Regions from separate parts of the Homo sapiens genome. Here region 2 is linked to region 1. Evidence: fine-mapped expression QTL. A gene starts in region 1. The other region holds a variant in brackets. All regions are shown on one strand. Distances are from middle to middle.

Region 1 (2,937 bases):
ATCAATTTTTGTCATCTAACTGATGCGTGGCTGTTAGCATAATATTGATCTTGAAAGATGTTTTGCAACATCTTTCCCCTGGTGTACTCTTGTTTTTCCATGATCCCACAAAATGAGCAGTCTAATTATTTACACAATTAGGAAGAGAAAAGGGGCACAGAGAATGCTCTTTGACCTCTGAAAATATTGGAGAATTTTACAACTGGCACCTTTAGCTCAGGATTATAAAGGTTGTTAGTTAGTTTGTACTGTTTTATCTTCATTGTATATAATATATATATTAGTCTCCAAACATGTTGATGTGTTTTCAATGAAATGGATGTCTGAGGAGAAAACCATTAGCCTGAGAAAACCCAAACTGTATTCCCATTGTGAATAAAAGGAAGTCCATAAAAATGATGGAAAATGTTCTGCATTCCTGTTATGATATCAAAATCTGGCAGTACATGAAAATTTTTCAAAGTGCTTATTTAACAGGCATAATCTTTGGTCTCCTGAGCCAGAATCTGCTGGGTATGGGACTGGATTGCTATTTTGACAACTCGCCAGTAGATTCTTACTCAGCAGAGTATTTGGAAGCCTTACTCTAATATTTTGGCCTTGGGTCTACATTTCTCAGTTCTGCACAGTCATTCTTCCCCTCTACACTACTCTTTAGTTTGTCTCATGATTCCAATACTCTCAATAATTAACCAAGAATAGAACTAATCAATCAGATAACTGTGGCACAGACATCAAATACATTTTGCTGCAACCATATCAACAAATGTCCCATGAATGATAAGGGGTAACCATATTCTCATATATGCATCCTCACATTACCACATATATATATGTGCATATGTGTATACAGGTAAAAGTGTGTATATATGTATACATGTATGTTTGTGTGTATATACATACATATATCTTCACACTTTTCTGAAATATATATATTTATGTGAGAGAAGGGTCTGTACTTTATTTCAGAAGAGAGCTTAATGTCCAAGGTATAATTGAGAGTCTAAAATGTTTGAGTTATTGAATTAATTAAACTTCATCTCTACTCAAGAAAACTTTTAACTGAGTTAAGCTCTTCCTTTCTCCACAAGTCAAGTCAATAAAAGGAAACTGTGATATTAATAATTCTTTCCTGTTTTGATGTAAAGAATCTATCGCATAAAGCAGTCTTAATTTTCATCATTCAGAAAAATGGTCTTGCAGTTAATTGGGACTCTCTTATTCCAGGTGGTATCTCCAGTCTCCATACATACCACGTTAGAACCATACTTATGTACCAAGCAAAGAGGGTATATTTTAATTTTTAAATGCCAATGTAACCTGTAGGCATATTTTTTATTTGTCTTAAATTATTTCCTATTTGGAAGTTTTAAATACCTGGAATAATTTATTGTACTCATATTTTTAAAGAAAAAAATCTTATGCCACCAACTTAATTGAATAAACAAGTAAAAGCCATTCCCAAAAGTAAGGTTTACTTGTTAAGATTAACAAAAAATAATGTGAGAATTCTGAGAAATATAATCTTTAAATATTGGCAACTGGAGTGAACTCTTAAAACTAACTAGGTTTTATATGTTTGACTAGAGCAATGACATAATAAGGTGGTTAATCATCACTGGACTTGTTTTCAAAAAGCCAACTACTTTAAGAGGAATAAAGGGTGGACTTGTTGCAGTTGCTGTAGGATTCTAAATCCAGGTAAGAACCATTGAGATTCTCTAATTTTTACATATATTTTATGTAAGAAATTTTCACGGAAGAAGATTTTGATGGTCTTGAAAAATATTACGAATTTTATGCTCTGTGTCTTCCACACGCTTACATTCTGAGCCCTTAAAACATAGTAAATATTCCTTCTGGGAGTAGAAGAGCCTCAGGTTTATATACTGTTAAAAATAAAGTAGAGAAAATAATACCTTTATATATTTAAATATAAAGTTTCAAATCTTGGTCTTATTAATTTCCAAACAAATAAAAATCAAGTCTCAAAAATGAAGCTCTAGTTACCTTCTTAAAATATGCTACAGGATAATTATTTTTGTCAACTACATTGACTGATCACACTAGACTCCTTATTTCTTTGATGTCTTCTTAACTGGATGAAGGCAGCCAAGGGTGGGAGTAGAGGGAAGAGTTAATTGGCAAACATAAAAAACAGGTGTCTCAAAGTCACATAACCACCTCAGTTTCCTTGTTTCAACTCAAGTTTGATACAGGGTGAAGGGAAATATATTTTCTAGATAATTTATCTCCAATTAAATAAGCAAAAAGTCTTCTCAGTACAGTTTTTTTCTTTTTTTATTTCATTATTATTATACTTTAAGTTTTAGGGTACATGTGCACAACATGCAGGTTTGTTACATATGTATACATGTGCCATGTTGGTGTGCTGCACCCATTAACTCATCATTTAACATTGGGCATATCTCCTAATGCTATCCCTCCCCTCTCCCCCACCCCACAACAGTCCCCGGTGTGTGATGTTCCCTTTCCTGTGTCCATGTGTTCTCATTGTTCAGTTCCCACCTATGAGTGAGAACATGCGGTGTTTGGTTTTTTGTCCTTGCGATAGTTTGTTGAGAATGATGGTTTCCAGTTTCATCCATGTCCCTACAAAGGACATAAACTCATCATTTTTATGGCTGCATAGTATTCCATGGTGTATGTGTGCCACATTTTCTTAATCCACTCTATCGTTGTTGGACATTTAGGTTGGTTCCAAGTCTTTGCTACTGTGAATAGTGCCGCTATAAACATACGTGTGCATGTGTCTTTATAGCAGCATGATTTATAATCCCTTGGGTATATATCCACTTATGGGATGGCTGGGTCAAATGGTATTTCCAGTTCTAGATCCCTGAGGAATCGCCACACTGTCTTCCACAATGGTTGAACTAGTTTACAGTCCCACCAACAGTGTAAAAGTGTTCCTAT
Region 2 (2,937 bases), 91 kb after region 1:
ATTTTTACTTATTTATTTATTTAGAGACAAGGTCTCATTTTGTTGTCCAGGCTGAAGTATAATGGCATGATTATAGCTCACTGTAACCTTGAATGCCTGTATTCAAGCAATCCCCCAAGGCGGTATTAAAATCCATGGAACTAATGAGATCTTCTAGGGACTGAGTACAGATAGAAACAAGATCCTAGGATCAGTTCTCAATCACTCTAATTTAAAGATCACTAATAGGAGAAACCAATAAAGAAAACTGAGGAGGTTTCATGAGAAAAACTAGGAAAGAGCGTTGTCCTCAAACTAATAAAGCATATGTCAAAAAGAGCATAAGTAACTGTGTCAAGGGCTGCTGAGAGTTCACAGGAGTTGAACCTGGGAGGCGGAGGCTGCAGTGAGCCAAGATCGCTCCACTGCACTCCAGCCTGGGAGACAGAGCAAGACTGGTCTAAAAAAAAAAAAAAAGAAAAGAAAACCACAAACCAATATCCCTGATGAACATATGAAAAAATTATCAATAAAACACTAGCAAATCAAATCCGATGGCACATAAGAAAAATTTTATAACATGATCAAGTTGTTTTTATTCTAGGGATGAAGGGTTGGTTCAACATATATAAATCAATAAATGTGATTTGCCACATAGAATAAACTAAAAACCAAAACCATTTGATAAGACAAAATTAAAAACAAAAACCATATGATCATCTCAATAGATGCAGAAAAATTATTTGATAAAATTTAACATCTTTCATGACAAAAATCCTCAACAATCTGGGCATCAAAGGAACATACCTCAAAATAATAAAAGCTATGTATGACAAACCCACTGCCAACTTCATACTGAAAGGAAAAAAGTTGAAAGCATTCTCCTGAGACCTGAAACAAGACAAGTGTGTCTATTTTCACTACTCTTACTGCACATAGTATGGGAAGTCCTAGCTAGAGCAATCAGGCAATAGAAAGAAAGAAAAGGTATCCAAATTAGAAAAGAGGAACTCAAATAAACTCTGTTCACTGATGATATGCAACAATAACAACAAAAATAGACTAATGGGACTTAAACTAAAAATTTCCTGCACAGCAATGGAAATAATCAACAGAGTAAACAGACAACCTACAGGAAGGGAAAAAATATTTACAAACAATACATCTGACAAAGGGCTAATATCCTTAATCTATAAGAAATACAAAAAAACTCATCAAGAAAAAAATTATTAAAAATAGGGTAAATGATACGACCAGCATGTTTCAAAAGACAAACAGTCAACAAACAACAAACATATGACAAAATGCTCAATATCACTAATCATCAGAGAAATGAAAATTAAAGCTACAGTGAGATTCCATTTTATACCAGTCAGAACGGCCATTACTAAAAAGTCAAAAAGCAAGATACTGGTAAGAATGTTGAGGAAAAGGAATGCTTATATACTGTTGAGAATATAAATTAGTACAACCTTTATGAAAAACAATGTGGAGATTTTTCAAGTATCTGAAAATAGAAGTACCATTTGACCCAGCAATCCAACTATTGGATATCTACCAAAAGGAAAGTAAATCATTTTATGAAAAAGACTCATGCTCTTTCACACTTATTATAACACTGACTAGACCACAAAAAATCAGTATCTTCAGAGGCATAATAAAGTCTGTTCTAACCACTTCCTCATAGGATTTTCATAAGTACCATATGAGAAAATATTTTAAGCCATCTTGAAATCATGATGCATTGAATAAATAAGGGAATAATTATTATTATT[G/C]CTCAAGTGTTTGCCTTTTAAAACAATTAAAATATAATTTTATATAATGGGGCCATTCAACTGTGAGCTTAATTCTATCATGGAGAAAAACAACACAGGAGAAGGTTTAATGTTGTTTCGTTTTGATATTTTAATGATATTTAATGTTTCTTTGCCTTTGTCTTGTTTCAGAATTGTTCAACCTGAATTGAAATCACTTGCACTGGGTTTCCACTCAATGGTTATACGAGCACTAGGTATGATGAAAAAAAAAAAAAAAAAAAAAAAAAATATATATATATATATATATATATATATATACACACACACATACATATATTAAATTTAAGTTATAAATATTAATGTCAAGGATTAAAGACTGTAATGAATCTTTAATTATGATAGTAAATAAAATTAGTATCCTTTCTATTTCTGTGATAAATAAAAACAATAAGAGACAGAGTAAAATTGAGTGATGGACCTAAAGGAGAATTCGATTGTTAATTATACATAAAGTCAATCTGTTAAGACTAAGGAATTATTGTATTTGTATTACACTCTTTCAAACACAAAGATAGATGGTCCTCCAAATTTTTCTTTTTTTTCAGAAAAATAAGAATATTTCCTCCCAGTAGGCAGAGTGAAGGGCCTAACTTCTAAACTGTGGCATGATTTAGGCAAGGCCTAAAGCTAGCTTGGGAAGCGTGGGAATCTGGTCAGAGAATCTGGCCAGGCTATGGCCAAATTACAATGAAGAAATTGTCTAAGAAGCGTATTTGATGATAAAGTCACAAATCCTCAAAGTTAAAAAAGAAGAAATATAAAGGGAATAGAAGAGAGGAAATGAGATGCTATAGTATTCTGTTGGTTTTCTTCCCTCCGTTCCGTTTTGTGTGTCTCTAATCTCCCAGACTCTGTACATTCTGGCAGGTTTCTACCTTCAGTTTCAATGGAGATACCTCTCTGCTAGAACCTGGGTGACAAAAGCTTAAAGTAACATCTGGGTTGTTAGTACTCCTTCTCATATGTAGAAATGAGACTATGAGAATGGAGTAAAATTTTTTTTAGCAATAGAAAATAGGAAAAAAAATGAGTTTCACCATTCTAATTCTGAGTATCCTATTTCGATGTATCCAATCTGTGGCACGATGGAACCTAAATGCACCTATGGAAAAAATACACATTTAGTACAAAACTTTCAATT

Which allele goes with the higher level. Positions count from the first base shown, and alleles are read on the strand shown. Sizes are in standard deviations (SD) of each study's normalised expression.
With allele G in place of C in region 2, the expression in iPS cells of the gene that starts at base 1,659 in region 1 is lower (large effect, 0.91 SD a copy in PhLiPS).

What was found. PIP is the estimated chance that this variant, and not a neighbour inherited with it, causes the effect. A credible set is the group of variants that fine-mapping cannot tell apart.
Region 2: its variant is the best candidate, but not a certain one, in a credible set for the expression of SLCO1B1 in iPS cells (PhLiPS, PIP 0.66).

The regions. Positions count from the first base shown.
Region 1 is chr12:21,129,536-21,132,472 of GRCh38, forward strand. It overlaps SLCO1B1 (solute carrier organic anion transporter family member 1B1), which reads left to right and starts at 1,659. Exons shown (of 15, transcript NM_006446.5): 1 at 1,659-1,701.
Region 2 is chr12:21,220,375-21,223,311 of GRCh38, forward strand. It overlaps SLCO1B1 (solute carrier organic anion transporter family member 1B1), which reads left to right. Exons shown (of 15, transcript NM_006446.5): 13 at 1,926-1,990. Among named protein-coding and RNA genes, the nearest start is that of SLCO1B1, 91 kb to the left of the region's middle. The variant G/C (reference allele first, on the strand shown) is at 1,755.